3 separate regions of the Homo sapiens genome follow, and all the other regions are linked to region 1. The links come from fine-mapping of genetic effects on gene expression. A gene starts in region 1. Each other region holds a variant in brackets. All regions are shown on one strand. Distances are between the middles of the regions.

The links. PIP is the estimated chance that this variant, and not a neighbour inherited with it, causes the effect.
Region 2: its variant is the best candidate, but not a certain one, in a credible set for the expression of RBM18 in whole blood (TOPMed, PIP 0.86).
Region 3: its variant is the best candidate, but not a certain one, in a credible set for the expression of RBM18 in whole blood (INTERVAL, PIP 0.89).

What each region holds. Positions count from the first base shown.
Region 1 is chr9:122,259,694-122,270,791 of GRCh38, forward strand. It overlaps RBM18 (RNA binding motif protein 18), which reads right to left and starts at 5,147. Exons shown (of 6, transcript NM_033117.4): 1 at 5,022-5,147; 2 at 1,687-1,815. The coding sequence starts at 1,799. It overlaps MRRF (mitochondrial ribosome recycling factor), which reads left to right and starts at 5,189. Exons shown (of 7, transcript NM_138777.5): 1 at 5,189-5,245. RefSeq lists enhancers at 4,329-5,300, 4,679-5,878, 5,301-6,271, 5,447-5,606.
Region 2 is chr9:122,231,431-122,242,528 of GRCh38, forward strand. RBM18 (RNA binding motif protein 18) reads right to left here. Exons shown (of 6, transcript NM_033117.4): 6 at 6,192-10,613. The coding sequence ends at 10,454. Among named protein-coding and RNA genes, the nearest start is that of LHX6, 8.0 kb to the left of the region's middle. RefSeq lists a silencer at 5,906-6,106. The variant T/G (reference allele first, on the strand shown) is at 5,184.
Region 3 is chr9:122,326,763-122,337,860 of GRCh38, forward strand. It overlaps MRRF (mitochondrial ribosome recycling factor), which reads left to right. Exons shown (of 7, transcript NM_138777.5): 7 at 1-4,575. Among named protein-coding and RNA genes, the nearest start is that of PTGS1, 39 kb to the right of the region's middle. RefSeq lists enhancers at 9,708-10,313, 10,314-10,917. The variant T/C (reference allele first, on the strand shown) is at 6,383.

The sequences.
Region 1 (11,098 bases):
CAAAGAAGCAGGTTTCCTCATCTCCTCCCTTCACCTTTCGCCCAGGCTGGAGTGCAGTGGCACAATCTCCGTGCACTGCAACCTCCGCCTCCCAGGTTCAAGCAATTTTCGCGCCTCAACCTCCCAAGTAGCTGGGACTACAGGCATGCACCACCATGCCTGGCTAATTTTTTCATTTTTAGTAGAGACGGGGTTTCACCATGTTGGCCAGGCTGGTCTCAAACTCCTGACCTCAAGTGATTCGCCTGCCTCGTCCTCCCAAAGTGCTGGGATTATAGGCGTGAGCCACTGTGCCCGGCCTCCCCTTGTCTTTAACACTATTCTAAAGGGAGTAACTTCTAGGACTGATGATATGCTCAAAACTTGCTTTCTGCCTGGCATGGCGGCTTAAGTCTGTAATCCCAGCACTTTGGGAGGCCAAGGTGGGTGGATCATTTGAGGTAAGGAGTTCGAGATCAGCCTGGTCAACATGGTGAAACCCCATTTCTACTAAAAACACAAAAATCAGCCAGCATGGTGGCGCATGCCTGTAGTCCCAACTACTCGGGAGGCTGAGGCATGAGAATTGCTTAAGCCCAGGAGGTGGAGGTTGCAGTGAGCCAAGATTGTGCAACTACACTCCAGCCTGGGCAACAGAGCAAGACTGTCTTAAAAACAAAAACAAAAACAAACAAACAAACAAAAAAACTGGCTTTCAGCATTGACCTCATACAGGCCAATCCACTCATTGTACTCTGCCACCAACCACCACCCTCCCTCTATCAAATAACTGGCAGAAGGGAAAAACCTCTCAATTTTCTCAGCTAAGAAATTCCTTTTCATCTTAATGGCTGTGATGTAAAAGAGCAGGGAGTCAGGGCAATTCAATCAATTTCGTGAACTCGGGCAAGGTACTTCTGTCTTTCGGGACTTGGTTTCCTCTATGTAGGATAAAAAAGCTGGGTCCCATCAGAGGTTGTCAAGTGTGCTCTATGGAGCCCTGGAAGTTCTACAGAGCCTAAACAGGGATGGCCAAAGAAAGGGTAGTAGTTGACAAAAGATTTTGGTTCCATCTCTTCTCCCTTTTAGTCAGAGCAACTCTGAGCTCTTATTTTATATACAGCTCTGATTATTACTTTTACTCTAAGACAGGGTTCTTCAGATTTAAGAAGTCTGCAAACTGCTTAGCATGGCACTTGGCACTCAAATCATTTAATGAATGAATGAAAACCAAAGGGACATGATTTCTAAGGTTCCTTACAACTCTGACCTTCTATAGTTCTATGGCTGCTTAATATGAATTACAGTCAAGTGGTCTCCTCTGCCTGTTTGCAAAGGTACTGAGACTTCTGCTTGTTCCTTTATTCTGGGTACAAATGTATTCCCAAGGCTGATTCTAGAGAATAATTCCCTAGAGCTACTAGGTACAAGGATTCAAATAGTTGGAAATGGGAGAACGTCTTTGGCAGATAGGAAAAAAACAGGTATATGGATTAAAGGATACCCAAGTCTGTGTCCTTGCAGTAGCAGAGTCCAAATGTAAAAAAAGTGACAAGATAACAGGCTAACAACATCTTATCTCTCCGAAGACACGATGTAAGTAAAAGGGTCTAAGTATATCCCACACCCCTTGAAAATTCTTCTTGACATCATCACCACAAAACATCCCAATATTGTAGGTAAAAAACTAAGGTAACTTAGACTTACTCGGTAATTTTGGGGTCCAGGTTGCCAATCCATAATCGGTGTCCTTCCTGCAGAGAGCCCTCTGAAAGGATGGATGCATTCTCCAGGGGAAGAGTTTTGGTTTCTGCTTCCATCAATGTCTATGAAATACTAAAGGAAATGTGAACATTCAGGCAGGAGGGGAGTAACAATGTGTGAACACAAGACTTCAAATTCAACTCAACAAACATTTATTCAAGGAGGGCATGCCCTCTGGGCAGTCCTTCAAAGGCCTCAGTGATTCCACAACCAGGGCCCCAGAACCAGTTCCCTTGGGACAACTGCTCTGGCAGCCAGGGCACACAAGCTGCCATTTAAGGTGAAAGGGGCGTGGTTCTGTGTGGAGAAACTAAAGTTTTCCTCCTCTGAAGCCAGAGGCTGACTGGGCAGGAGGCCAAAGTCTCTATTACTACATGATACTTCAGTTCAACAACTGTCACCCAAAATAAGCCTTGGAAACCACCAGGAAGAGTCTTAATGGCATTAAAAGGGATGGGTAGGGAAGAGCAGCACTCCATCCCTTTTCCTCATGGAAGAGGCAATATAGCAAAGAGAAGAGGCAATATAGCAAAGAGAAGAGGCAATATAAGAAATCTGTGCGTAGACAGAACTGGGTTTGAAAGCAGGTTGTGTGACTTGATGAACTACCTGAACTTTCTAGGCCTCAGTTTCCTCATTATCTAGAGAGATAATAGTGCTTATTTTATAGAGTTGTTGTGAAGATTAAAGACAGTAAAAAAATCACTAAATACTGTATCTAACAACAGTAAGTAATCAATAAATACTAGCTATTATCATGCTTACTCTTTTGGGACAGACCAGGAAGAAGAGACTAATTTCCTCCTTAGTTATTCAAGTTCCACCATTTGCTAGCTATGTAGCCCTGTGCAAGTTACTTAACAGCTGTTGGCCTCAGTTCCCTCATCTGTAAAATGGGGATAATGCCTCATGAAATTACAGTGCAGATTCACTGAGTTAATACACCTAGAGCATTTAGAACCGTGCATGGCACCTAGGAAGCATTCAATTAATGTTAGCTTAAATTATTACTAGTCTTAGTTCCTGAAATGTCTCATCTCACAGCCAAGGAGAAAAGAGGATTATGATTATGATGGAGACAGCAGTAGAAAGAGCAGAAACCTTGGTGTCAGAAGACATTGTTTCAAATTGTGGCATTTCTTTCTTTCTCTTTTTTTTTGTTTTTGAGACAGACTCTCGCTCTGTTGCCCAGACTCATGGGCGGTGGCACGATCTCGGCTCACTACAACTTCCACTTCCCGGGTTCAAGCAATTCTCATGCCTCAGCCTCCCGAGTAGCTGGGATTACAGGTGCATGCCACTAAGCCTGTCTAATTTTTGTATTTTCTTGTAGAGGCAGGGTTTCACTATGTTGGCCAGGCTGGTCTCCAACTCCTGACCCCAAGTGATCCATCCACGTCGGCCTCTCAAAGTGCTGGGATTACAGGTGTGAGCCACCATGCCCAGCACAAACTGTGGCATTTCCACTGGAAGTTATTTCTTTCTGAGCTTCAGTTTACCCATCTTTAATAAATTTTGCCCTGTTTATAACTTAAGGCTTCGAGGACCAAAAATGAGACGACAGATGTGAAATAAAGCTTTAGGGGCTGGGAGGACAGCAGGCTGTGTCAGAGTTCAGAAGTCCCTGCTAGAGAACACATATCCTATACCCAGAAGTACCTCAGAGGTCAGCACTACAGGAACCATGGAGGCAGTCACAACAACTGCCATTACCTCTTAATCATCTCAGCACACCCTGTAAAGTCTAGCACAGCAGTCCCTAGGTAATTGTTTATTGAATACCCTGCACATGAGGGTATTTTTCTTCCTTTCCCATTCACATCTTTAATCTGTTCAGCAATGTAAGTCAAGCAACTAGGAACTGTTAAACTCTGGGCTATGTACTGAAATAGACAAATGAAAAAGCCACAGCTCTTGTTCTTACCTCCTGGGAGAAAGGTGAAACAGACATAAATTTAATCCCAGGGGAGACACATTTTTGTCTTCCCTCTGCTTTCCTTTCCCCCTACTTTTTAAACAAATCATTCATTCAAAAAATAAATTCACTGCTTCTATTATCTAGGACTTATCCAGTTACTGGAGTCAGAGCAGTGAACAAGCAAGGTCCCTATCCTCTGGATGCTTGTATTTGGAAGGGGAGCAGGACAAAACAAAAGCAAAATAAATAAAGAAGATATAATTAGTGATACATGCCACAAACACAATTAAGCAGGGTGATGTGACAGGGACTCGACGACTATAGATTGAGTGGAGGGAAGGCCTCTCTAAAGGAGATGACATTTGGGACTTGAATGATAGGACATTCTGATTTTCTCATGTCTAAAATCAGGAATAATACCAATAGCTATTAATATTTATTACCACGAAAAGGTACCATGTTTTACTGGTAAGAGTGCAGGCTATGCGGGTCTGGGTTCAAATCCTGACTTTTGCACCTAGTAACTGCACCTTTAGCAAGTCACATGACCTTTCTTTAAGCATCCTCTCGATAGAAAAGCTTTCCTAAACAGAGTTCCTTGTTATTCTATATCATAGCCACTTTTCCATCTTTTTCCTCCTACTAAATGCTAATTCAATGTATTACTTAATGTTTCCTCTTCTATTTCCTTCACTAGAACGTAAGCTCCCACAGCACAGGACCTTGCCAATCTTGATCACGGTTCTATTTCTAGCACTTAAGTACACTGCCTGTCTCACGGTTGGTGCTTAATATTTACTAAATGAAGCAAGCCGCTTCTCCACTCGAAGACTTAGTTTCTTTTTCCTTCCTAGAATGGGTACAATTTGTCGTCTCACGAGGTCGTTGTGAGTCTTAAATAAGACAATTTTGGTGACAGCTCAGAATATGGCTTTTTGAGGAAAGGTAAAGGGTAATAAAAGATCAAGACGGCACGGGACTATCAAAATGCTTTGCGTTTGCAATAGCAACAATCCTTTAGACTACCAGAGTTCACAAAACGCGGTTACATTTGTCTTTCCAGCTGAGCTGCAATAACTCTGGAAGCCAGAAATAGTCATCTGGGGAAAGTGCAATCCAGAGAAGAAGAGACACCTGATCCTAACAGCAAGCGGTGGGGTCATGCCTGGAACCCTGGCTTCCCGATTTCTGGCTGCGAATTCCTACAGGCGAAGGGTCATTACTCGGATTGTTATTTCCGGGCCAGCGACAGGACAATCCGGGGCGGGGCCTGAGATGCAGTCCTGCGAGGGCGGCCTCCTGTAAGACCTCTTAGCGGGCCCATCGCTGAGGTGCAGGGACATGTCGCGGCCGAACTCACCTCGTGGCCTCGGCGTGGTGCTCTCAGCTCATGCCCGGAAACCAGGTCCCGACGCCGCGGTCAGACGGACCTCTAGACGCGTCCGCCTCAATGCCGCCAGCTGCCAGGCCGCCCGTGACGCGTTAAGCCTGCGCCGCCTCCTGGCTTCGTGACGTCACGACGTCCGCGCAGCTGCGGTCGCCGCCGTCGCACGAGTCTTTCCTTAGTAACCTGGGCGATAGCTGGTGAGTGTCCTTGACAGGGCCTCGAGGGGCGCGTGTGGTCTGGGTGCCAGAGACCCTTACTCAGGGACCTCTGGGGGACCTCAGGGGACCAGACTACCGTCCCCGACCCGTTCGAGTCCAGCTTGACCTTTAAGGCTGAGGGCGGGACCTGTGGCATTGGAGCGAGTCTCATGGGGTGGGGGCGGGGCTCCTTTTACCAGCTAGGAATTTAGGGGATGCTGGAGGAACTTACTAAAGAGTAGCCGCACACTTGACGGGAACGTTTGAGTTTCAGAACAATCCCATAGGAGTAGATATTATTATCTCCCATAATGAAGAAACGGAAGCTCACATAGGTAATTTTACCAGGGTCACGCGGTCAGAAAGTGAGGGCGCTTAAATTCAGACCTAGGGCTATCCGACTCCTAAGCCTGGACTTTTAACCACCACTCTGTGCCACCCAGTGGCAAAACAGTTGTCATTTCAGTAGCCCTTCTCCATTTACTTAACCCTGACAAATAGTATTGTCATTTACGTTTTACAGATGAGACGGAAGTCCTGAGAGTTTGACCGATTTAAGGTCACGTGCCTAGGAAGTGCTGGAACCAAGACTCGGAGTTTTCTCTAAGTTTAGTGCCTTTATTTTGTTTTAAACCACACTGTTGCATTTCCCCCCATTTTGGAAAGCTTTATAGTTGGAAAGAATGAAAACCTGATCTGACCCCTTCATTTTATGGTTGAAACAAAATCTACGTAGGAGAAATCACTTGGTACAAGTCACAAGTCAGTGGTAGAGCTGCCGCAAATGCTTTTTGAATACGTGTGATTATGAATCTAAATGGCAGATGGCAGGGAGTGATAAGGTAGGCATACTGGAATCCAGATCTCTTAACTCTTAGGCAAAAGCCCTTTCTCTACCTGTTAAAGTGTCTCATTCCTTCTTTGGCCGTGCCAGGTGCATAATGATTCTGTGTATAGTCAGATACTACAAGTACCTTTCTTTACCTGGTACTGCATTTAGAGAAGAACATCATCTACTATCTCTAAGCAAAAATCTGGCAAACCAGAGACAGTGGAGGCAACGCTGGGAAGCCCAGAACCTACCATAATAGTAAGGGTAGATTCCCATCCGATTCTGGTTTACCCTGGATAAGGAATTTATCTTTCTGGACTTTCACTGATGTATTCATCACATTCACAGTGTCTTCTGTGTTCTGGCAATGTACCAGGTACTGGGGATACAGCAGTGAACAAGAAAATCATAGATTAGTCCTTGTAGTACTTAGAGTCATATGGAGGGAATTAGACAATCAAATAATTACACAAATGTTAGCTTGTATTGTTAAGAATTAAGTGCTATGATGAAGTAAAGGGTGCTATGAAAGCAGACTACAGGACACTTGACCTAGTTGGGCTGTAGGAGATGGCCAAGGAAGCCGTCCTCTGAGGAAGTGATGGTTAAGCTGAAATCTGAAATAAAAACGGAGACAAACAGTTAAAGAGGTGAGGGAAGATCATCAAGGAGATTCAATGGCATGTTTGAAGACCCTGGAGCAGGGGGAGCCCTGGAGAAGTGAAAGATCACTTTTCTTATTTTGCAAAATACGGGTGGTGATTATCACTCTTTAGTTATGAGAACCAGTTAAGATGGTACATGTGAAAGTATTTTATATGCAAGAGCCTGCGTATATGCACACTCATAGAAGTGCTTATGTTATAAGCTAGTATACAGCTGCATTGAAAAGAGTTGCTGGGACAGTAGATAAGCCAGGATTTTGGGTTGGTCATCTAGCCAAAATTAAAATGAACCTTCTGTGAAGAACAGGGAAATCGTTTGAGACCCTCAACTTTGGAAAAAGAATGTGTGCTTCAAGTAGTTTAAAAAAATATTTCAGTCTGTAATCTCAGCACATTGGGAGGCCCAGGCGGGCGGATCACGAGGTCAGGGGGTCGAGACCATCCTGGCTAACACGGTGAAACCCCGTCTACTAAAAATACAAAAATTAGCTGGGTGTGGTGGCGCACGCCTGTAATCCCAGCTATTTGGGAGGTTGAGTTAGGAGAATGGCTTGAACCCTGGAGGCGGAGGTTGCAGTGAGCCAAGATTGCGCCACTGCACTCCAGCCTGGGCGACAGAGTGAGACTCCGTCTCAAAAAAAAAAAAAAAGAAAAAAAATTCAGGCCGGCGCAGTGGCTCACGCCGGTAATCCCAGCACTTTGGGAGGCCGAGGCGGGCAGATCACCTGAGGTAAGGAGTTTGAGACCAGCCTGGCCAACATGGTGAAACCCCATCTCTACTTAAAATATATAAAAGTTAACTGGGTGTGGTGGTGGGTGCCTGTAGTCCCACCTACTCAGGAGGCTGAGGCAGGAGAATCCCCTGAACCTGGAAGGCATAGGTTGCAGTGAGCTGAGAACGTGCCACTGCTCTCCAGCCTGGGCAACAGAGTGAGACTCTGTCTCAAAAAAAAAAAAAAAAAAATTTAATAGTTGGGATGCTATTATAATAGCTACAATTTATTGTGTACCTACTGGATGCCAGGCATTGTACTGTGTGTATGTGTTTTGTTAAGTGACTAGGTCTCACTATATTGCCAAGGCTGGCCTTGGACTCCTGGCCTGAAGTGATCCTCCTTCCTTAGCATCCCAAGTAACTGGGACTATAGGCACCCATCACTGTTCCCAGCCATGCTGAGTGTTCTATATGCATTGTATAGCAGTTAATAACATAGACTCTAGAGCTAGATTGACTGAATTCAAATCTTGGGCAGATTTTTGCTTCTGTTTTCTTATCTGTAAAGTGGGAATAATCATAGTACTTACTTCAGGGTTATCATGAGGCTGAAATGAGTTCATGTGCATAAACCACTTAGAATAGTTTCTGTCACGTAGTCATTGTTATATAAATGTTAGGTATTGTCATTATTGTTATCTTTTAAAGTCTCATTAATATCACTATGATGATGATGTGGAAGCTGTAGCTCAGAGAGGCTAAATGACCTCCCCAAGGTCACACAGCTAGTAAGTGGGGGAATTGAGATTCCAGTTCCAGACTGCGTCCAAAGCTCAGACACTTCCCCACATTGCTTCTATGTATAGGTTAATTTTGTTGGCTCATACTTGGGATCTCAACAAATTTTTCTTCAACTTTAATTCTTTATCTGTGCTGAACTGAATGTTAATTTGTATACCCTTAAGGTAAAGGACCTAAAGGACTGCTTTTATTGAACTTCCACTTTGAAATTTCTTGACTTCTGTGCAATTAAAATCTACGCCTTAAGCATTTCAGCGATGTGGTTTATTTATAGAGTTGTCTTCCGGTTCACGTGTACTGGGTCTGCTTTTGGGTGCTGCGTTTTCTGTCAAAGGTTGTTTATTTCTAACCCATTTTGATTTCCTGTTGCTTTGTGAGTTGGTATTATGACCTGCAACAGGAATACCAGGAAACCTGTCTTAAATGGAGCAGCCAGATTGAGACCCTGTAGACTAAAATAAAATCTACTCATTATTCTACAGCCATATTTGGTTATAAGTATGAGTTAGGCATTGGTTTTATTAGGGAAAAACCTAGATATAGAAACTTCACTCTGAGCCAAACCTCTGTGAACAGTTCTGCTAAAATAGAGCTTGGCTATTAGCTCCATGTCCTTGGACAGTGACTTAATCTCTCTGAACCTCAGTTTCAGCATCTGTAAAATGGGGATTATTATACGTTCTTTGTGGCATTATTGAGAGAATTAAATGAAATAGTATGGTTAAAGCAAACAGTCCAAACTTGACCTCAATTAATAGTAGCTATTGATACTAGTAAAGAAGAAAAATATTCCCTTTTTTCATCAAATCTGGTTTTATAGACTTCATACACTGATCACTAACTTCTAGTATCCCTTACTGTTAAAAATTCCATCGCGAGAAATGATTTGCCTTTGTGCTACTCATTTGCTTTAAAAATAATATCCATCATTAGGCCGGGTGCGGTGGCTCACGCCTGTAATCCTAGCACTTTGGGAGGCCGAGGTGGGTGGATCACGAGGTCAGGAGATCGAGACCAACCTGGCTAACAAGGTGAAACCCCGTCTCTACTAAAAAATACAAAAAATTAGCCGGGCGTGGTGGCAGGCGCCTGTAGTCCCAGCTACTTGGGAGGCTGAGGCAGTAGAATGGCGTGTACCCGGGAGGCGGAGCTTGCAGTGAGCCGAGATCGTGCCACTGCACTCCAGCCTGGGCGACAGAGTGAGACTCTGTCTCAAAAAAAAAAAAAATAATAATAATAATAGCCATCATTCATTAAGCTGCTATATTCCTGGCACTATGTTAGTTGTTTACATGTATTCATTATTAAATTTTATTTTAAGTTCAAGGTTATTTTTATCATTGATGAGGAAAGTGATGCTCAGAAAAGAAGAGTAAATTGCCTAAAGTTGAAATTTACATCCAGGTCTGACTGATTGTAGGCTATTTTGTACATCATTAATAACATACAAGGTTTCTTTATTGTGTCTGACCCTGGCATAAAAGTTTTAGAGGCCGGGCATGGTGGCTCACACCTGTAATCCTAGCACTTTGGGAGGCCAAGGCAGGTGGATTGCCTGAGCCCAGGAGTTCAAGACCAGCCTGGGCAACATGGTGAAACCCTGTCTCTACTAAAAATACAAAAAAATTCGCTGGGCATGGTGGCATGTGCCTGTAATCCCAGCTACTTGGGAGGCTGAGGCATGAGAATTGCTTGAACCTGGGAGTGGAGGTTGCTGTGAGCCAAGATCGTGCCACTGTACTCCATCCTGGGCAACAGAGTGTGACTCAGTCTCAAAAGATAATAAAGATAATATTTTTTTAAAAGTTTGAAAAAAAAGGTGATAGCTATCAACAGGTATTATTTTGGGGGGCTCCTGCTGTTTGCTAAGTACTGTGTCAAGGGCTTTACTTGCATAACCTCATTAATTATTCCTAACCCTAAGAAATGAGTACAATTATTCCCATTTTATAGTTGAAGAAATCAAGGAGCAGAAATATTCAGGAATATTTAGTCAGTAATGGAGCTAGGATTGGCTTCCAGGTCTTCCTGACGGCAAAGCCCATGTTATTCATTCCATTGTGTTGGATCAAAATTTTAGGATGGGATTTAAAAAAAAAAATAAGGTGTGGGACTGTTACTCAAAGGAAACAGCTTCCAGGTATTTGATACTAATTGTTCTTAATTTTTACCTGAGCCATAGCAACATTACTGGCAGAAGCTATCAATGATATATTTGTCAGTTAGCTAGGGCTGTGTTCTATCCTGAGGTAGTTGTAGGCGATGGCATCTTTCCATGGTCAAAGACCTCAGATGTAGAATGCGTAACTTGTGTTAACACAGGAGAGGGTGGCATGTTCCAGAGCTCTAGTTCTATACCATGGAAGACCTCAAACCTCAATCATGCTTTAGACTCACATTAAAGGGCATCCTAATTGGTAATCAGTGCATAAGGAACCAAATAAAATTTTAATTAAATGCTGTCGTGTGAATTTTCCAGTCATTTTATGCCTGTTGAGACGGTTTTCTTATTTAAAGTCCTCTTCTAGTGCTCTGCCTTCCCTCTTTAAACTTTATCAAGATTTTGTGCTTTTTCTCATGTAAGGGTTTAATTAGCATCATTAAAGTTTTAGTCTGCTGCATATTTGCTTAATGGGCATTTTGGTGCAGTGGAAAGAGCTTGGGGTTTGGAGTCCAAAGTGGGGAAGTTCCTTAAATCTCTGTGAGCCTTAGTTTCTTCATTCTGTAAAATGAGGCAAATAATATTTTCTTCTAGGGCTGTTGGGAAAAGGATTAGAGATAATGTATTTAAATTGTCTAGTACTTAGCTCAGTTTATAGGAGTTGCTTGATAATTGGTAC
Region 2 (11,098 bases), 28 kb before region 1:
AGTGATAACAATAATAACTATTTATTGAGCATTTATGTGCTAAGCCCTTTGTTGTTTACACGCATTATCCTCTTTAATCCTTGCAACTACCCTACAAAAAGGTTATATTATTATCTTTCTTTTATAGTTGAGGAAACAAGCTTACAGGAGTCCCATCTGAAGCTCTGGCACTCAGATTTTAGAACCCAAACTCTTACCTACTATGCAATTCTGCTCCTGAATTCTGATTAAGTGCTCAGATAATAAAAACTGGAGTAAGAGGCAGTAAAGTCAGTAGTGAAGCACAAAGACTCTAGGGCCAGATGGCCTTGATGCCAACCTTGGCATCTGTTTTCTATTCCCTTTATTACTTTATTACTTGGGTAACCCTGGACAAGTTCTTCAGCCACTCATCAGCCTCAGTTTCCTCATCTGTAAAGTGGGGATAACCGAGTTCAACTCCTATGGTTGTGAAAATTACGCAAATGATCCATGTAATAGGGCTCAGAAATATGCCAGGCACACAGTAAGCAAATGATAAACAGCCATCATTATGGCAATGGACCGGCTGAATCTTGTGGTTGTGATTCTACTAGGTACTACATCAAATTCTTTATGAAGGCAGGGGATGAATCAACCAAAAAAAATCAAATCTTCTCCTGAATAACTTACCTAAGGAAGATGCAGAACCATTATTCGAGCCCAGAACTTGCCTAACTTCAAAGAGGACAGAAGTGAAATTACTTTGGAAAAGAAATCTCTCTTCCAATGACTCCTGACTCCATCTTTTTCCATCAGGAAAAAGAGTCCAGATAGGAGTGACCTTGGCAAAATTAGGATTAGCAAACATAGTACCTTCCATTAGGATACTTGATTTCTTCCTATGACAAACTGTGGGTCACTTTGAGTCACTTAGCTTCTCTGAGCCTCAGTTCCTCACCTGCAAAACGGGGAATAATGATACTGACCTCTCAGAATTGAAGTGACAACTAACTATACATTAAAAACTAATATTTTGGCTGGGTGCAGTGGCTTATGCCTGTAATCCCAGCACTTTGGGAGGCCAAGGTGGGTGGATCACAAGGTCAGGAGATCAAGCCCATCCTGGCCAACATAGTGAAACTCAGTCTCTCCTAAAAATACAAAAATTAGCCGGGTGTGGTGGCAGGTGGCTATAGTCCCAGCTAGTCGGGAGGCTGAGGGCTGAGGCAGGAGAATTGCTTGAACCTGGGAGGCAGAGGCTGCAGTGAGCCGAGATTGCACCACTGCACTCCAGCCTGGCAACAGAGTGACACTCGATCTCAAAAAAAAAAAAAAAAAAAAAAAAAAAGAACTAATATTTTTTAAAGTGTTGTAGATTTATTCATTTATACAACCCTGAAGCTGTATTAAGCACCCTACATGAATAATGGCATCTTCTCACTTTGCAGTTCTTCTCCCGGTCACTAAACAGGATGTGGTCATCTGGTCCTCTGGGGTGAATTTTGCCATCTTCCCCCATTTGAGTCTAGGCCCAAGGGTTCAGTTTGAAAGAGGCTTCATTAGTAACTGGATAATTCTGTGGGAGGCCCCCAGCAATGGTTCGACCCTGCCGGGGAGTAATTCTAGGAAGGTAATGTGAGCTGGGGGAGGCTGGAGACCCAGCTTCACATTTATTTACTTTGACAGCTAAATTGGTGAGCAAGGGGGAAATCAGATGAAAGCCATTTCAGAGTAAATACTAAATACGAAATTTAAACATTCAGATTGTGACAAATGAGAAAGGGACAATGGGAAGAGACACGGCAGCACCCCCCTTCCAAGCCTAGGACCTACCCTCACCCCATCAGCTTCCTAGGTATTTCCTGTTTGAGGAAAGAGCACAGAATGGGGTACAAACTGTATGACCCTAGGCCGGCAATTTACCTCTCCTGGCCTCAGTGTCCTTGTTTGCAAAATGCGCGTGTGAATCAGCGATGTGGAAGTGACGGAGCGAGCCTGGGCGTAAGATAGACCACCAACCCAGCCCAGCCACTTCCTGGCACGCTGAACTTGGAAAAGTCACTTATCTGAAACACATTTTTCTTAATATCAATATCTGGGAACAATATCAATCTCAGAGGAGTCAATAAGATAATCAGTGTGAAAGGGATTTGAGAAGCACAAAACTCCGGGGCCAGATGGCCTTAATGTCAACCTTGTCACTTCCCTTTATTACTTGGGTAATCCTGGAAAAGTTCTTCAGTCACTCATCAGCCTCAGTTTCCTCATCTGTTAAGTGAGGATAACCGAGTTCAACTCCTATGGTTGTGAAAATTACGCAAATGATCCATGTGACAGGACTCAGAAATATGCCTGGCACACAGTAGTCAATCAATAAACATTAGCCGTCATTGTGGCACGGGCTCTCTGAATTTTCTGTTTGTTATTCTACTAGGTACCACATCAAATTCTTTATGAAGGCAGGGGACAAATCAAAGCTTCAAAGTATATGGCAAAGCAATATTGCATACCTCAAAGCATATTGCAAATGTGAACAATTATAGTTACTGGAAGTCCCCTTCCAGGAAGCTCTGACATTCGCTAAGTAAGTTCAGGTCAGCAGACATTTGTGAAGCATTTACTCCATACCAGGTTCCACACTAGGCCCAGGAAATAGAGGAAGCTGTCCTTGTCCCTGCCCTTGAGGAGCCCACAGTCTCTTAAGAGAGAAGAAAGCCAGCAACTCAGTGCAGTGTGACAGGTGCTACAAAGGGTGCTATAGAAGCAAGGAGGAGGGTCACTTAACCTGGCTTATGGGTGGTGGATCAGGAAGGCTTCCTAGAGGAGGTGACGTTTCAGATAAGTCCTGAAGGATGAGTAAGTACAGACAGGCAAGAGCAGAAAGGAGTTGGACCAGGATAAAGAGTGGCGGCCCAGTTAGTGTTTGCTGGGGCAACAAAGGGAGATGAGGCTAGGGAAGTAGACAGGAGCCAGATTGTGGGGAGCTGAGTGTTGACGAGGTTAGATTCATCTTGGAAGCTGGAGTCTACAAGCCTACAGTGACACAGGAAGCAGCATCCTGCAGGAGTTGCACAGCACAGTGGTTAAGGATTCCGGGGTTGGAGCCAGGTGGCCTATATTGATAACCTGACCCTGTTACACACTGGTTGGGGGGCCGAAGGCAAGTCACAAACTCTATGAGCCTTAGTTCCCTCAACCGTAAAATGGGGATTAATAGATAACCCATTGACAAGTGCTGTGATGATACCAGGAGACCATGATGCATCTACGAGTTAAGTTCTTGGCCACCAAGAGACATTGTTATCACTGTTACCACTAAGAAGATGAGGTAATGGTCACACAGAAGGCACTAGCTAAGTGGGGATCCTCAAGGTGCTAGATGTTCCCTCCTCAGAGAATTCTACCCTGACCACATGATTGAAAATAAATCTCCCGTATTAATCTTTTTCCAGCAGAGGGTAGATACAGCTTACACATAGCCTCACAAATAGTCTTCTATAGAATGCCAAGGAATTTCAACTTCAAAATAGGAACTATGAGGGGCTTGTCAGCATGGAGATGACATGGTGAAGTTGGAGATTTGGAAAGATGACTTAAGTAGTTGGTTTGAAGATAGATTTGAAGGGGTAAGTACTTAATTGATTGCAGCAATACTGAACGTTTATTAACTAGTAATCTAAGGGAGAAGGAATGAGGCAGCTGCAGGAACAAGGAGGATGAACAGAAATAAAATAATTAAAAGTTTATTATTTTACTTTATTATGTTGTATATCATCATATACATATCTACAACACATCCAGTTTTCTAATCATCTTTTTTTTTTTTTTCCTTGAGGCAGAGTCTCGTTCTGTCGCCCAGGCTGGAGTGCAGTAGCACCATCTCGGCTCACTGCAACCTCTACCTCCTGGGTTCAAGTGATTCTTATGCCTCAGCCTCCTGAGTAGCTGGATTACTGGCACGTGCCTCCATGTCCAGCTAATTTTTTGCTTTTGCTTTTGTTTATTTGAGACAGAGTTTTGCTCTTCTCGCCCAGGCTGGAGTGCAATGGCGTAATCTCGGCTCACCGCAACTTCCACCTCCTGGGTTCAAGCGATTCTCCTGCCTCAGCCTCCCAAGTAGCTGGGATTGCAGGCATGTGCCACCACGCCCAGCTAATTTTGTATTTTTAGTAGAGATGGGGTTTCTCCATGTTGGTCAGGCTGGTCTCCAACTCCTGACCTCAGGTGATTCGCCTGCCTTGGCCTCCCAAAGTGCTGAGATTACAGGCATGAGCCACCGTGCCCAGCCAATTTTTTGTATTTTTAGTAGAGACGTGGTTTCACTATTTTGCCAGGCTGGTCTCAAACTCCTGGCGTGAAGTGATCTGCCTGCCTTGGCCAAAGTGCTGGGATTACAGGCGTGAGCCACCACGTCTAACCAACTTTACATATTAAGGTTATATATAGAATCATATATATGTAGTATATATGGTATAAATACATACAAATGTATCATATATGATATCATCAGCTATATAACATTTAGGAGACTGGATATAGGGAGTGGGGGAGTGGAAAATGTTCAAGATAACTCTCAGGTTTCTAATAGTTTATTTTATTTTTCCCAGTGACACAGAACATGGGAGCAATTGAGGAAGGGCAAGAGGGATCCATGAGCTCGGTTTTGAGTCAATGTACCAAGGGAATATTCAAGTGGAAGTGCCCAGGAGTGAACGGGACATATGGCTCTGCAGCTCAGAAGAGAGCCTGGATCTAAGAGAAGGAATTTCAGAGATATCAGGGTAGGGATAGCAGCGGAAGCCTTGGAAGTGGAGATTTTACAGCAGCTGGAATTTACCCCATCTATGAGAAGAGAGTTGGCTTGTTTGCTTTCTGGGAGGTAATTTGCCCCTGAAACTCATCTTACTTTTGGTGAGAATCGTTTTTTAAATTATAAAGCACATTATATGTAGTGATAAGTGCTAAAACAGACCCAGGTCGTTAAGACGCAGAAAGGCAATTAACTGCCTTATAGGAATGAGCATGGGTGGGAAAATATCTGTTAGACAAGTGGTGGGGGTGGGCAGAAGGGACTTCCCAGGTAGAAGGCACATCTTGTACAAGGACAGGGGAATCCAGGAGAGTCCATCATGTTTAGGGTGCACAAATAGTTTAGTCTGGTTAGGAGAATGCCTAGTGGGACTGATTTGTAGAAGGCCTCATAAACCTGGCTTATCCTATGG[T/G]TCTAGGTATTTGGAAGTATCTTAACTCCTTACTTAGATTAAATCTTAATATCTCTCACTTTGGGGCTTTGTTCTTTGTTCAACGTCCCCCTTAAACCGTTTACGCAGCTTATTAAACATCGTTTGGCCGCTCAGCTCGGGGGGAAATCACCTATGTCACCATGTCCCATTCCCAGCCTGGTTCCCATCCTCTGGTGTCTTGAAGCTGCTGAGTCGTCCCTTTATCACGGTACATCACAGTGCACAGGGCTCCTGCCTCATCATCTTTACACCCTCCACGCATCACACATGGCAAATGCCATCTGTTTCAGGAATGAGTAACCTTCCTTCTGATGAGGTCGCCCACCAGAAAGCTTCTCAAATGGGATAGGCCTGTTTTCAGAAGAGGAACACATAACTTGTTTTTTAAGGTGAAAATTTAAAATTATGCTTCTAGTTTAGAAAAGTCACAGGGCATGTAAAAATTAAATGTCATTCAGCATAATCAGTAATCTTAGCCAAGTTTAAGATTGAATGCAGAGGAAAGAAGACACAGACCTGCGTACTCGGATAAATTCTGACAGATCTGTTTTTTTTGGGTTTTTGTTTTTTTCTTTTTAACCTGGGATTCAAGAGGTCTCTCCAGAGACCACAAGGAAGAGCCTGCTTGAGAATGAAACCAACCCAGAGGAAAACACAATCAAGAGATAGACAGAATCCTAACCATTTCACTGAACACCTGGACTTCTCAGTTACATGAACCAATACATGTTCTACCGCAAGGGAGTTGGAGTAGTGTTTTTGTCACTTGAGCTGGGAGTCCTGACAAATCTGCTTACATAGCTGGGGCTACAAGTCTAAATCTGAAGCCCAAGTTCTTACGGCCTTAGTTTCCTCACAGGGACAATGAGAGGATTTAGCCCACATTGATAGCCTTAAGCAGTACAGTGATGCCACTAGGGCTGGCACAGCCAGTTCTCTATCCCAAAAGATGTGTAAGGGGTCAGAGACATTGACTAAGAAACAATATTCGGTGCACATCATTCTGACATCTGTTGCTTTTATTCTCTGCATTAATACGAGAATTTTAGAAAACACATTTCCAGTCATGGAATATTGTTTAGAGTAGGGTTTGGCAAATTTTTCCTGTAAAGGGACCGATAGTATATATTTCAGGTTTTGTAGGCCACAGTCTTCATTGCCAACTATTCAACTCTTCTATTATATGGGGAAAACAGCCACATGTAAATGCCTGGGCATGGTTGTGTTCTAATAGTTATTAACATACACTGAGATTTGAATTTCGTATCATTTTCATGTCACAATATAGTATATATATTTTGTTTACTTTTTTTCTCAACCACTCGAAAATGAAAAAAAAATCATTCTTAACTTGTAGGCTATACAAAATTAGGAGGCAGAGGCCAGTTTGCTGAACACTGGACTAGATGTTTGCAGGCCTGGGTTCTACCTAAAGCTCTCCCATTAACCAGGTGACCCTGGCCAAATCGCTTTGTCTCTCTGGGTTCCCGTTTTCCCCATCTGGACAATGAGGGGGCTATATGAGATGGTCTCTTAAGGCCCTTTGGCTCTCAAATACCAGAATTCTTGTAGTTTATCCAACAAATATTTATTGAGTATGTATGATGTACAGCCATTGTTTTAAATGCTGAGGGTATAGCAGTGATATACAGTTCCTGCTTACATGAAACTTACATTCCAATAAAAAGAGACAAAAAAAAATTTAGATATAATGTTGGTTAGCGGTAAGTGCTTTTGAGAAAATCGTGAGGAAAGGATTGGAGAGTGACAGGTTGTAATTTTAAGAGGGAGGCCGGGGACTGCCTCTTGATCATTAACATTTGAGCAGAGACATGAGTCAGGTGAGAGAGCGGGCTCTGCGGCTATCTGGAGAAAGAGCGTTCTAAGCTAAGGCAACAGCCAATGTAAATGCCTTGAAGTAGAAGCTCCCTTGTATTCAAAGAATAGCAAGAAGGCCAACGTGGCTGCAGTACACCGCACAAGGGGAGAACAGTAGGCTATAGGGTCAGACACGTAGTGAAGGACAGGTCATTAGGGCCTTACAGATCTTTCAATTTTTTCTAGGCTGTGATGGAAAGCCACAAAGAAGAGAATCACATTTTAAAATAATTTTTTTAAAAATTGCTTTGGCTACTGTGTGGAAAACGGACCCTAAAGAATCAATAGCAGAGGCAGGGAGATAATTAGGAAGGTATTGTAATAGTCCAGGGAAGAGATGATGGTGGCTTTAAGAAAAATGGTGGTAGTGTTGGAGGTGGTGAGATGGCTGGATTCAAGAGGCATTTGGAAGGTAGAGTTGACAGGATTTGTTGAAGAACTAGATAGGAGCTGGAGAGAAAAAGAGAAAACAGGGATAAGCATGCTGGGACTAAATCATATTTTAGGAACAAATGATTACATATAGGAAATGTTTGACATTTAATTTATAAGGCAAGAATTACTCCTGTTCTTTTATGTAGTAGTATAAAAGAATCACAGATATATTTGTTGATTCAGAAACTGTGCATATCTTAATAAACAAGAGACAGAGCTGCAGAATACCTGGTTTCATACAACTTGTGCAACTGATTTTTGACCTGTTTTGTTTTTGTTTTTTTTGAGACGGTGTCTCACTCTGTTGCCCAGGCTGGAGTGCAGTGGCACAATCTCGGCTCACTGGAACCTCTACCTCCTGGGTTCAAGCGATTCTTGTGCCTCAGCTGACATGCTTTGAAAAATCTTTCCTCATGTGATACTCCTCCCCAGTACTAAGATACCAATTATAGAAAATCAACTGGTTAGGATTACATTTTGCATTTGATAAAATAGGAATTGAGATGAAGAAAATAGTTCATACGTCTCTCCTCAGTATTTCCTTCAATTCTTCACTCTTGTATATAAATCAAAATTATAAGTGACATAATTTTAGCAAACCAAAATAACCAGTAAACCAAAGAATAATTTTACTTAAAGTACAGACAACCTCCTAACAAAGAGTTGACCAAGTTAACACCTGAAATTTAAAAACCTTTCATCAGACTGCTTTCAGCATATTTAGGATACATACATTTCTTCTTTTGAAATCTCTACCACGAGAGACTAAACACAGTACGATACTTGCAGAGATTTCCATTAACAACTTCTTTTCAAATAGTGACATTTGCAATGGAAACAGCTGGTCTCTATTCTCATCTCTAACAACAGAGGTAGGCAGGCATAAAGGGTAAAGAGAGTTGCCTCTCAGTTTGACTCTCTAGCCAGAACCCTCTGCAGAGAAGGCACTTAGAAGAAGCACCCCACGTGGACATGCTGGCCAGAGTCCTGAGTGGAAACAAGCCTGTCAGAGAACTGCAGTCTATGCCAGTAAGTGAACGAGAGAAGATATAACCACACGGACACCGTCTTACATTTATTCACACAGAGGGATAAGAATCAGTACAAATAATAAACAGTGCTTTAAATACAAATAAATAGCTCTGGTTTCTAAAGGAAACAACTCTATATATAATTCTAAGTTTTTTCTAAGTTCCTATTAAAAATAGAAGACTATTTTGCACTATGTAAGTTCTAGTCCACCATAATCCTTTGAAGACTTACGGATAAAATGGTGAATTCTATACTCCAAGAAGTCACCAGAAAAATGGGAGATAATGCTCCTACCTCTCTGAACTATCCCCCAAATAGGAGGAGAGTTACTTGCATCATAGACAGACACAGCTAATACATACAGAAAGTATTTGATGTCTAGAGATATTTAAAAAGATTAACCTTGGGAAAAGTAAAAAGAATTTCCTTAAACCAGTTTTATGAATTCTAAAACCTCCCTCTACTGAAGTTTTGATTCAAATGTCTTAAATTCATTTATACTCATGGGAAGATGTTAAGTTCCTATATTGAAAGCTTCCTCTTGCTAACAACGATAGTGATAAACATTCTGTCATCACCAAGAATGGCACCTGGAGTAACAAAGTGATACATACCTGGTAAAGGAGCAAAGGTGCTGCCCAATTAAACAGTATGTCAAACTTGGCATCAAAATGACCAAAATGTGCTGAAGAAACACATCCCTAAATCTGTTGGTTGACTTATCTTTCTCTATTGTTATATTCAGGATGCTTAGAGTGACAAACATATCTAGAGGCAAGTATGTTCTCCAAGTGAAGAATCATTTCCAAGGCATGCAGTCCTTTAAAACTACCTACCACACAGAGTCATTACAGTCTTGGTGCCACAGTGGCATCTGTTCCATTGACTTTCTGTGCCCACTGCATGTCCTCTCCTCGTCCTGCACAAGATAATGCAATCTCTTCCACTTAGACCGCTACACAATTATTAGAAAATTGTATGTTTGATAGTGACCAATATAGCAATGTTTAGGTTTTCAAAGAAATTTTGCTTTTTCTATTTAGACTGACCATGATATAATTCCAAACAGAACATTCTCATGCTATAAAAACAATCCCATGCAATAAATGTAATTTTAAAAGTCCCATGATAATAGCAACATTTGTTATTATAGAAGGCATGGTTATTTAGATTTGAAAAAAATGGTTGCTATAGAATAAAAGTTCAATTTCCAAATAGAACTTGTGTTGTGGTATAAAATGTTAAATTTGATTCTAGTTTTGTCAACACAAACAATTTTAAGATATACACCATGTTTTCCTAGTTGGGATTTTGAAACAATAAGCATAATTCTTAAACAGATTACTACAACATTTGTTCAAAGAATCAGCTCCTTTTTGCCAAGAACTTTCTCTTTTTCAGTCCAGTTGGAGGGATTGCCGTAGTAAATTCTGGAACAACAGTTCTGAACATGATTTAAAATCTGTCTCTCACTTCCCTCCCTGCCTTTTACTTTTTCTTTATGTTGTAAAAGACACACGAGCGTAGAAAAATGCTCAATTTTTTAATAGATGTTAATATTTTTAGTTTCCTGATTTAAATAATATTTTGTGTATTTGCCTTTTGCTCTGGCACACTATAGAATGTTTCTGGAGTTACAAATCCAAACCAACCAGCCAATTAGAGCATCCCAGGGTTCAAATCACAATTTGGGATACAACGCTATTTATTCTGGATGATGCTCAATTCCATACATAGTTTAGGGAAGAAACATCCATAAGAACATCCAAAAACATTATGTTACCAAATGCTAACATGTGATTGTGCTCCGTTGAATAGTACCATTCACATCTACAAAGTACACAGGCAGACGATTTTAGGTGTGGAGACCAATTTGCTTTTGCTGCTACAGTAATTCACAACCATCATCTTCGAGATTTCCATGCTGTTCTAGAATATGGAGTAGTCCTTTTTTTATCTGGTGGCTTAAAGTAGGAATAAACAGGCGCTGCTGGATACTCTGCATCAGGATTTTCCGCCATCATTTTCAGTTTTGCTTCAATGGCTTTTATCTTTGCAGTGACACTGGAAAAATAATAGCAGAGGATCAGAGTGGGCCTAGGTATATTCAGAAAATAGCTGTACAGTTCCTCTCCTTGAGCCTCTTGGGAATATTAGAGACGCAACAAGATACTAAATTACAGACATTTAAACATTTTATATAAAAGCCAGAAATAACTAATTCTCTCATTCTAAGAAACAGATCAAGTCTGAGCCATCTATTAAGTTTTTAACATAAGCCTGGACATTGTTGGGAGTACTTCATATAGTTCTACATTTAATCCTCAGACGCAGACACTGTTAGCACCTTAATGCTTGGCAGAGAGTAGGTACTAAAAATAATTCTTTTAGAATTGAAAACAACATTATAAGATAGGTTATATTCCTTATTTTGCAGATGATGTAACTGAGGCACAGAAAGGTTCATTTGCCCAATGTTACACAGCAAGTAAACGATAGAGCAGAGATTTGAATACAAACTGACTCAAAAGCCCAGGTTTCACCTGAAT
Region 3 (11,098 bases), 67 kb after region 1:
CTAGACCCTTTACACGTGTTCCCACATTGAAACTTCTGATGAATCCTTGTTAATGTAGGTGTTATGATTATCTGTGTTTTTCTGTGAAAAAAACAGGTTCAGAAAGGATATTTAACTTGCCCAAGGTCACACAGGTAGTAAGTGCTAGAATGAAATTTCAAACCCACATCTGACCTTGAAGTAGGTCCTTAATCAGTGTGCTTTGGTTCCCAAGTCTTCGCTGAACACTTACTCAAAAGGGACCTCGCGCTGTTCTGGACCTGGACGGTGATGTGAGAGAAGCAGAAGTCTTGCTTTCATAAAACACATAGCAAGCTGTTCCTAATTAATGACTGCAAGTAAAATAGCATAGTACCTGGCACATTGTAAACACCAAAGAAATGGTAGCTCTTATGGAGACAGTAAAGATTACATATTAATCCCCCACCTGTTTGGCCAACTTCTCTAGAATATGTCAGAGAGCAAGCAAAATGTTCACCAAGCAGTGAATAATGATAATAATAACAACAATAACAGTATTGACAGATCAGTAACTAATATTTGCTTGGTGCTTTTTAGTTTTCAAACTGCTTCTACATTCTTTGTTGCATTGAAACCACTCAGTGAAACTTTGCGGTTAGACAAAGAGTGATCATAAAAGCTTGTATCCTCAAAAGCCACTTTGAGGCTTTCTTTTGCCCTAATAGACGGTCATTTTTCATGATGTGCATTTGAAATGATATGTTCCCTATTTTGGGGGTACAAATTTTGATATGTATGCAGGAAATGTAGCTTATAGAGTATGTTGTTTAGGTTTTCCATTATTTTTTGACCCTTTGATGAGTCTTGGACTGAAAGTGGTGTGTTTCAGACCCCTGCTATTAACATTTCTGTTCCTTCTTGCATTTTCTGCTTTATGAAAATGGATTCTGCTTTGTGAAAGTACTGCTGTGTTGTTTTATACATAGCGCTCCAGACGCTTACATCTTCTTTATTTCATTCAGTGCTCTTAGTCTGAATTTTATCTTGTTGTATATCAGGATTACAGCTCTTGCTTGCTTTTTGTTTACATTTGCTTTCCCCATTTCTTGATTTTTAAGCTTTCAGAATCACTATTTTAGGTGTTTCTTTTTTTTTTTGGAATTGGGTTTTGTTCGATGAACCATTCTGAAACTCCTTTTTTCTTATTTTTATTTTTAATTGTAAAATATACATAAAATTTACTCTCTTAACCATGTTTTTTTTTTAGACAGGGTCTTGCTCTGTCACTCAGGCTGGATTTCAGTGGCATGATCTCAGCTCACTGTAGCCTTGACAACCTGGGCTGAAGCAATCCTCCCACCTCAGCCTCCTGAGTAGCTGGGATTACAGCCACGTGCACCGCCACACCTGGCTAACTTTTAAAATTATTTGTAGAGACAAGGTCTTGGCTATGTTGCCCAGGCTGATCTCAAACTCCTGAGCTCAGGTGATTCTCCTACCTTGGCCTCCCAAAGTGCTGGGATTACAGGCTTGAGCTTCTGTGCCCAGCCTTAACCATTTTAAGTGTACAGTTCAGTAGCATTTAGTACATTTACATTGTTGTACAACCATCCTCCAGAACTCTTTACCATGCAGAACTGACGCTCTATACCCATTACACAACCCCAGTTCCCCCTTCTCAGCCCCCAGCAACCACCATTTATGAATTTATAAATTTGATTAGGAACATCATGTTAAGTGGAATCATACAGGATTTGTCTTTTTGTGACTAGTTTATTTCACTGAAGCATGATGTCCTTAAAGTATATCCATATTGTAGCATGTATCAGAATTTCCTTTCTAAGGCTGAGTAATCTGTTGTATATATGAATAAGTATATATAAAGCTCCTTTTAACAGACACTTAAATTCATTTACATTTATTTATAATAGTGATATGTTTAGTAGAACCCATTTACTTTTTCTTTATTTTCAGTATTAACATAAGTGATTTGGTGTTTTAGCCCTAAGCAGATAAAGGATTAGAGATTAGAATGAGGAAGAGGGTTGCTTCACATAGACGAAGTTCAGTTTTTGTGGAATAAACAAATAAGTGATTATCTCTGTCTGCCTCTTTGTCTCTCTCTCTCTCTCTTTTTTTTTTAATAAGAGATGAGGGGTCTCCCTATGTTGCCCAGGCTGGACTTGAACTCCTGGGTTCAAGTGATCCTGGAACTGCAGATATGCACAGCTGTGCCCGAAGATCCCTTTCTCTTACATTCCTTTCTTCTGGTCTGTGTTTCAGTCCATCCTACGCTGTTAAGTTAGAACAACCTGAAACAGCTTTTATCATGTCACTCTTCTCTCAGAAACCTTCATTGGTTCCCTGTTGCCTGCTGAATTATGTAAACTCTTCACCCTGGCATTCAGTAACTTCTGCAATCTGGGCCTGATGTATTCCTTTAATTGTGATGCATCTCTTACAACTACCCTGATACCACCAGTGCTTAAGCGAAACGGAATTATTAGCTTTTCTGAAAGCTAATAATTTTGTGCTGCTTTCTCTCACCTTCAAGCCTTTTCTTAGGCTATTTTCTTTGCCTAGTGTATGCTCCCTTAAACCACTTCCCCACCAGCAGGCAAAACTTACCTAGTCTTATAAGCCCTTCTTGGTCCCATGTTCTTCCTTACACTAACTCATTCATTCATTATCCATCCCGATGCTTCTCCTGATTCATTCATTCATTATCCATACCGATGCCTCTCCTGATCCCTAAACCTGCCTATGCCTATTAAGCGCTTGGATTTGCCTCAAGCATCTGACGTTCAGCTACCCACCTGCGTTTCCTCTCTCAGGAAAAGCCTCACCATCCACCCAGGTGCCAAGCCAGGACACTGGGAGCCACTTTTGCCTCCCTGTCCCTCTCCCCTCATCCAATAAGTCACCAAGTCCTGTCAATTCTCCCTTCAACAGACCTTTCCTTTCCTTCCTGGGCACACCCTTGAGTGGTGCTCACCAGGGAACAGATGTGGCAAATGTTCCAGGCTGGCCTCACCCGGGTCTCTAGACACTTGGCTCAGAGGCAGAACATGGCTAACCCTAGATAAGCCTTGTGTGAATTCCTGGCAAGAAAGTCCCCTGCTGTCTTAGTCTGTGCATTCTCTGACTAGCACAGTATGTGGCGAGAGCAGGTGTTGAGGAAATGTTTGTCTAATTCTAAGGGGCCTGCCAGGCCTTGATACAAATGGCGTCACATTTACATGAATAACCCAGAGTTTCTCTAATTATCCTCACCTGCCTGCCCAGGACCTTCAACCTCATCTGCTAAGTCGGCCTCAGGCGTTTCTAGACATCTTAAGGGACCGCATGGCATCCAAGGCCACTGGCATCTACTGTACTCCCCTCCCACCGGCGCTTCCCTTTGCTAGCATCTGCAGCCACAAGTGACACTTAAGGGAGATTTACCTCCACTACTGGGAGTGTTAGTGTCTGTGACAAAAGTGCTGGTTGCTGGGCTGAGGGGGTCTGAGCATGCTGGGTGGAAGCCCTGAAGAGGAAGGGAGAAGGTCTCTGCCCACATCCCACATTTGCCGTGCATCCCTGAGTTCCAAAGCAGCCTCGCTAGGCTCTAGAGCCCCTAAATCTCCAAAGACAGCAGCTCCTCCGCGAGCTAGCTGCCCCTGACCGAGGCTCACAGCTTGCCTAGGGGAGGGCAGGGCAAAAGTCCCTGCTATTCTCTTCCTTTCCTGGCTCAGGCCTTGATCCAAATAGCTCCCTTCTTCCAAGACACTACTCCCCAGGCCTCCTCTTCCTGATAATAATAGTGGCTAACAAGTTTTACTAGATTTTAGGCAACTCAAGGAGCTAGCTGTTATTTTGTTCATTCTACAAGTGAGGAAGGAAGCACAGACAGTGGTTAAGTTACATGTCCAGAGACACACAGAGGGCCTAGTGCAGTAGCTCATGCCTGGAATCTCAGCACTTTGGGTGGCTGAGGTGGGCGAGTCACTTGAGGTCAGGAGTTCGGGACCAGCCTGGCCAACGTGGTGAAACCCCATCTCTACTAAAAATAAAAAATTTAGCCAGGTGTGGTGGCGGGCGCCTGTAATCCCAGCTACTTCGGAGGCTGAAGCAGGAGAATCACTTGAACCCAGGAGGCAGAGGTTGCAGTGAGCCAAGATTGCACCACTGCACTGCAGCATGGGCAACAGAGCGAGACTCTGTCTCCACACAGAGGAACACTTGGCATCAGGGAGTCTGTTGTCTGACCCGCAACTAGGCAGCCTCATACATTATTTTCACTAAGAGACCAGTGGGGCTGGAAAGGGACTTGTGAGGTGCTAAGTAGCCAGTGAGAGCTTCTGGGTCCTGTCGCAGTTTTGCCCTTTCTTCCCTCAAAAAAAGGTCTCTCCACTTCTCTGTGGGAAAGGCTTGGGCAAGTTCTCTGGTTTCCAATGAGGCCAGAGAACCTGTGCTGATCCCTAACATCTTCACCCATCGGGGGCAAAATAAGTAAAATAAAAGTAATGTAGCAAATGTTTTTATAAAAGTGTTAATTTAAATTAACGGACTATTACCTATTCTTAGAGCTTTCTCTTTTGTTTTTGGCATTAAAATATCCTTTCTATTATAAAATGATAAGTTGGTGATTCTTTAGAAATCCTTATTTAGAAAAAATAATTGGTCACATTCTGTGGGTTCCTTTCATTCTGTTTTTTAACTTCACAGATGTATGAATCCCAAAGTCTCGGAGCTATGGGACCTCACGCCTACTCCTAGTTCTGATGTCCCCGAGGCTGTCATCCAAGGGAAGCTGGAGCTGTAACTAGGGAGAGAAGCAAGGGAGGGAGGTGGTTTGACCTGTGTGGGTGTCGGGGACTCCTGGGTGAGTGAGCAGTGGCAGTGAGGCAGGGGTTGGAAACAGGACAATAGTCAATCAGAAGGGTTGAGAGACCCACAAGGGAGGAGGGACAGGTTGGGGGAGGTGAGTCAGAGAGAGGAGAGAGACAGAGACGGGAGATACAGGGACAGAGGGAGGGAGATAGAGGCAGAATCAGAGACAAAAATAGGAACACACACGCATGCACACATACAAACACAGAGATCAGCACATGGAGACAAAGACACAGAGAGACACCCAGGAAGAGAGATGGAGACAGTCCCAGAGACAGAAAACAGACAGGGACAGTGAGAGTCAGAGACAGTATCATCTGTAGAGATACTCCAAAAGAGATACCCACTAAGACAGAGACTGAGATAGAGACAGACACAGAGGAGGACAGAGAAGTACACACAGAGAAGGCAACAGAAACCAGGAAAAGAAACAGTTTAGAAAGAAGGGAGGGGAGGGGGTTTTCTACTTGTTCGAATCCCACCCCTCCCTCCGTCTCTATGCAGGGGAGCTGTTTTCTTCTTCCTTCTTTCTTGCCTGTTAAACTTTTTGCTCCTTAAAACAAAAACAAAAAGAAAGAAGGGAGGGGAGCAGAGAGGAGAAGACAGACACACATATAGGTGGAGACGGAGTGAGGCAGCTGGAGATGTAGGGGAGAGGGAGGGTGAGCCAGGCCTGGTGGCTTTGGGCAGCCCCAGGTTCTGGCACAGGGCGTGGGTAGAGGAAGTGTCGCATCAGCCCTGCCGGGGCTGCAGGGACTAGATAAGGATGCCTGCCAAAGGAAAGCAGGGGAAGGAAAGACGTTTACAAATCCCCATAGGGGCAAAGCCAGGGAGGCTGCCCCAGGCCCAGAGAACAATGGGTACTTGACTTCAGTGGGTCATTAATGAGACAATTAATGGAAAGAGTAACATAGGCCTCCCTGAGGAGGACTTGGAAAGTGGTTAAGTGGAATTATTGAGGACTTGTGGTGGCTCTGAGTGGGGGGCCTTTTCCCCCACAACCCAGATGTCCAGTGTGCCAACTGCACCTCCCCTGCTCCTCCAAATATGCCCGGTGCTCCCTCCGCCCTGGACCCCTGCTTTTCTATCCCTATGCATTTGCTTCTGCCACATTCTCTACCTGGAATGTCTTCCCCTTATTACATCCATCCATGGAAACCCCACCCTTCAGAGGGTAAGTAAACGTGATACATCCATACGGTGCAGTGGTCAGCCAGGGCCATATGTTTCAACAAGAATAGGGCCCTCAACACATGATGGGCAGTGGAAGAAGCAAGCAGAGTCCTATTACAGCATGATGCTATTTATACGAACTGGAATTACACAGACACAAAGCAATTCCTTTAAAAACGATGCCTACTTTGCATTATAAAATGTTTTAAAAGGGCAGGGGGGATTGTGAGGGATACTGGCTAAATTCCTAACGGTGATTGACACTGGGGAGTGGGGGGAAGATTTAAAGTATACCCTGAAGTCATCGTGTGTGTGTGTGTGTGTGTGTGTGTGTGTGTGTATGGATATGTACATGAAAACTTGACATAATGTTAAT[T/C]TGGAGCTGTGAAAATAGGTGTGGTTGTTAACCTCGTTTTCTGTTTTTATTTCCCCTGTACTTTTAATTTTTTTTTTTCCAGAGAGAGAGAGAGATTCTAGCTATCCTCCACACCCACCCCAAATACCTCCGACTGCAGGAAGTCTTCCAGGAATGCATCCACCAATCAGACACGGTCTCCCTTTTCCCCTTGTACCAAACTCTCAGGGCTCTTAAGCACTTTCCCCCTCGCGGTTCCCCTTGTGATGTTCATGGACTGTCTTCCCCATTGAATGGGAGGCCCTCAAGGGCAGGGACTTCCAGTACAGAGGTATCTGAGACTGAGCCTAGGTCTTCCACCCTGTTACTGCAGGAGGCAAACCAGGAAGGTGCTGACCATTTCTCGGTTCCAACACCCACAATCCACTACGATGTGGGGAGGTGGGAGGGTGGAGCTCCTGAAATTCAAAGCACGGCTTCTAGAATGAGGATCTACCTCTAGTGGGGAGCTGCTATTCAAAAATGTTCAGGGAGGAAGGAGGAAGTCTTGTTTGCTGTGGCCAAGGAATCGCTTTGTTGCTTGTTAGCTGGTTGGTTGTGGCCACATTGCTAACAAGGCCTCTAGCTAGCAGCGTTCCCCAACCCATCCTAGTGGGCTAGAGATGCATTATAACCCCTTCCACCCAAAGCTACAGATTAAAAAATAGACCCAAATTCCAGCACCCCCCAGCGAATCCCAGCTGCTGGTTAAAATGGAGCCATTGTTGGCCAGGCACAGTGGCTCACACCTGTAATCCCAGCACTTTGGGAGCCAGAGGCGGGCGGATCATCTGAGGTCAAGAGTTTGAGACCAGCCTGGCCAACATGGCAAAACCCCATCTCTACTAAAAATAGAAATCCCTCTAAATTCCTCCTGCCCTTTTAAACATTTTAGGCATCATTTTTAAAGGAATTGCTTTGTGTCTGTGTAATTCCAGTTTGTATAAATAGCATCATGCTGTAATAGGACTCTGCTTGCTTCTTCCACTGCCCATCATGTGTTGAGGGCCCTATTCTTGTTGAAACATGGCCCCAGCTGACCACTGCACCATATAGATGTACTGCGTTTACTTACCTGCTGAAGAGTGGGGTTTCCATGGATGGATGTAAAATATGGGCATGGTAGTGGGTGCCTGTAATCCCAGCTACTCAGGAGACTGAGGCAGGAGAGTCGCTTGAACCCGGGAGGCGGAGGTTGCAGTGAGCCGGGATCACGCCAGTGCACTGCACCCTGATTGACAGAGTGAGACTCCATCTCCAAAAAAAAAAAAAAACTAATTCTCCAGCCCCCAGTGAATCCCAGTTGCTGGTTAAAATGGAGCCATTGTAGAGAAGGAAGGAGAAAGGACATCAGTCCCAGCCCACCCATCCAGGCAGCCACTACTCATGGAGCATTTACGCGATGCTTGGCCCCTAAGCCACATTATCTAACTTCATTCCCACAACAGCCCTTTGGGCTTAGATTTTTAGCAAACGGGCTCAGAAAGGCTAAGTGCCTTGCTAAAGTCACAGATGCAGTGAGTGTTGGAACTGGGACTCCCATCTGACCTGTTAGGAGGTGGATGTGTCTTGGGTCTGCTATAGCTCTTCCCACTTCTAGACAGCTCCATGTTTTACAAGTGGGATACTGAAGCACAGAGAGGGGAAGAACTCATCCACTGACGACACAGTCAGTGAATAGCAGAGCTGGGACTTGAACCCAGATTTCCTGATTTCCTCCCTGCTCCTTTGGCTGCCCAGTGGAGTCTAACAGACTGCAGGTCAGACCGCACTTTGGGATTTTTAAGCTGCCGGGGTTTGAGATGTCTTTAAGCCTTCATGGGGCAAAAAATTGCAGGGTTTGGGGAGCAGAGAAGGGTCTTAGAGATAATCTAGTTTGGCGCCCTCTTTGTAGTGATGAGGAATTTAAGGCCTAAACAGGGCAAATGACTCACAAGAACACTTTGATGTCAGAAAGTCCATGCCAAAATAAGCAGCCTCATGATCCACAGAGTCCGTTGGAGTCTCAGAACTGACTGACTACAGCTTTAGAACCTGTGTTAATAATAGGTAACTTGGTATCAAAACCCAGAGCAGATTGGAAACTATAAATTACAATGTGGAGAAGGGCAGCTTTCACACAGAGATGTCTGTTGAATGAGGAATACACAAATGAATGAATGAATGAATGGACTGCCAGGCTGATTTCTGGCTTCTACCTCACTTCCCTTCCTCTCCTCTATCTCTTGCCGTCAGATTAATAACCTTAAAACACAGCCTAGGTAGGGCGCGGTGGCTCATGTCTGTAATCCCAGCACTTTGGGAGGCCGAGGCGGGCCGATCACCCGAGGTCAGGAGTTTGAGACCGGCCTGACCAACATGGAGAAACCCCATCTCTTCTAAAAATACAAAATTAGCTGCACCTGGTGGCCCATGCCTGTAATCCCAGCTACTCAGGAGGCTGAGGCAGGAGAATCACTTGAACCCGGGAGGCAGAGGTAGCGGTGAGCTGAGATTGTGTCATTGCACTCCAGCCTGGCAACAAGCGAAAACTCTGTCTCAAAAAACAAAACAAACAATAACAACAACAACAAAAACACAGCCTTTGCTATAACATCCTGCTCAAAAACATTCAGTGGCTCCCCCTTACCTGGATGACTGAATAGCCTCCTAACCAGTCTCTCTGTTCTTCATGCCTGGCCCTCTGATCCGTTTTCTCCAGAGGGTAAATTCTTCAAACGCAAATCAGGCCACTAGCCTTCAGAGGCTCCCTATGACCTCCAGGAAAAAATCCAAAATTCTTAACCCAAGGTCTTAACTGCAAGGCTTGACCATCTCTCTGACCCCATCTCACCCCAGCCTCTCCTTGCTCTGGCGTCTCTCAGCTCCCCACCGGTGGCTGTCACTTCAGGGACTTTGCACGTGGTGTTCCCTCTGCCTGGGACATTCCAGGCCCTACTGGCCTTGCTAACTTCTATATGTCCGTTAGCTCTCAACCCAATGTCACTCCCTCCGGGCAGCCTTCCCTGACCTCCCCAGATTGGGTTTAGCAGCTCTGAGAGCCTCTGGTCTGCCCCCAGCACCGCACTATCCCATCTGATTATATGTAACGACTTTCGCATCTGTCTCCTGCCCCAACTGTGAGCTCTGAGAAGGCAAGAACTGTCTCATTCACACTGCACGCTCAGTCCCCAGGATGAAGCCTGACACACACTGTACACTCAACAAGTATTTGCTGAATGCACAAATAAATACATGTGGCTTCCTAGTGAAACTGATGTAGCCATTCAACAAATATTTAAGCATCTTGGTAGATACTTGTTGAGCACCTACTAAGTGCCAGGCATGGTTCTCCACACTCCACAGGGTAAACAAACCATCACAAAGTCCCTGCCTTTGTGGAGCTCACGGTCTACTTGGGAGAGGCAGGCATTAAATCCATAGAGAAATAACTTAGTGCCAGGCATAGCTGAGTGCTGTGAAGGAAAACAAAGCAGGAGTTAAAGAATTGGGAGGGTGGTGGTGAGGGGGTGGGGGTTGTCAGTTTAGATGGGGCAGTCAGGGAATGCCTCACAGAGGAGGTGACATTTCAGTGATGAGCGAGGGCTTCTGCGAGACACAGACCCTCCCCTGCCTGGGGCTGTCTGGGCCACAGGTGTGTCCAGGTATGGCAGGCCCAGGTCCCCAAACTCTTCCTGCCTCTCGGTTGGAGCAAGGAACCCAGAAGAGGCCTTAGGTGAGGCTTTTGAGGCCGGTGCAGAAGCCTCAAGCTGCTCTTCACAACAGCTGTGATTGGGCTCTTTCTGCATGGCGAGAGGCAGAGATTGCTTTGTGCGCCGAGGGCTCGGCTGATTGTGGTGGGTGCCGGGCGATTGGCACCCACAGACCGCGGCCGCCAGGGTTTACCACGCACCCCCAGCACCGCGGCGGGCCGTGCGCAACGCGCCAGCCCAATCTCGCCTCCTATATTCAGAGTTGATTAGACGCTATTTCTGCCTGGATTTTCAGAAGGCTCAAGAGCTTTTTTAATCACTACAGTGGCTCATTACGGTTTTGCAGTGACACTCATGTCCTTCAGTTCTCTTCTCAGATTAGATTCTATAGTCAGATGAATATTGGATGATTTCATTACATACAAATGCAATCAACAGTTTTGCATAAATTTCTTCTCTTTTCTTGAGTTTCAATTGACCCCAGCACCCATGGTGGCAGGCGCGATCCACATGCAAATGAGCTGGGTTTGCAGCCGAGGAGAGGGGCCGGGAGGAGGCGGGCACTTGCACCAGCCCAGGGAGGCAGCAGCCTTGATTGCTCAGGCTTTGGGAGAGGGGCCTTGGAGGAGGGGGCACCCTGCAGTGGGCAGCCTCTGTGGCCAAGGCTGGGCACCCCATTCAGGATAGTGTTCTCCAGGTGAACTGAAGCACAGGGATGCTCCGAGTAGGACAGGCTCTCTCTCTGGGCAGAGACTGGAATGTGAAGTTAAGGCCCTGGCAGCTGGGCTGGCAGGGGAGGGTGTGCTCAAGATGCTTGGAGCAGTGGCTATTTAACAACTGGTGTGGACATGTTTCAATCTTTTAACAACTGGTGGGGCTATAGCAGTGCATTCCTGCTGTGTATTTGCTGCTGCTGTTATGATCATAATCACTGTCATTACTCCCTCTGGAGGGCTTAAGCTGTGGCCGTGTGGGCAACCAGTAAGAGACAAAAGCCAGCCCGAGG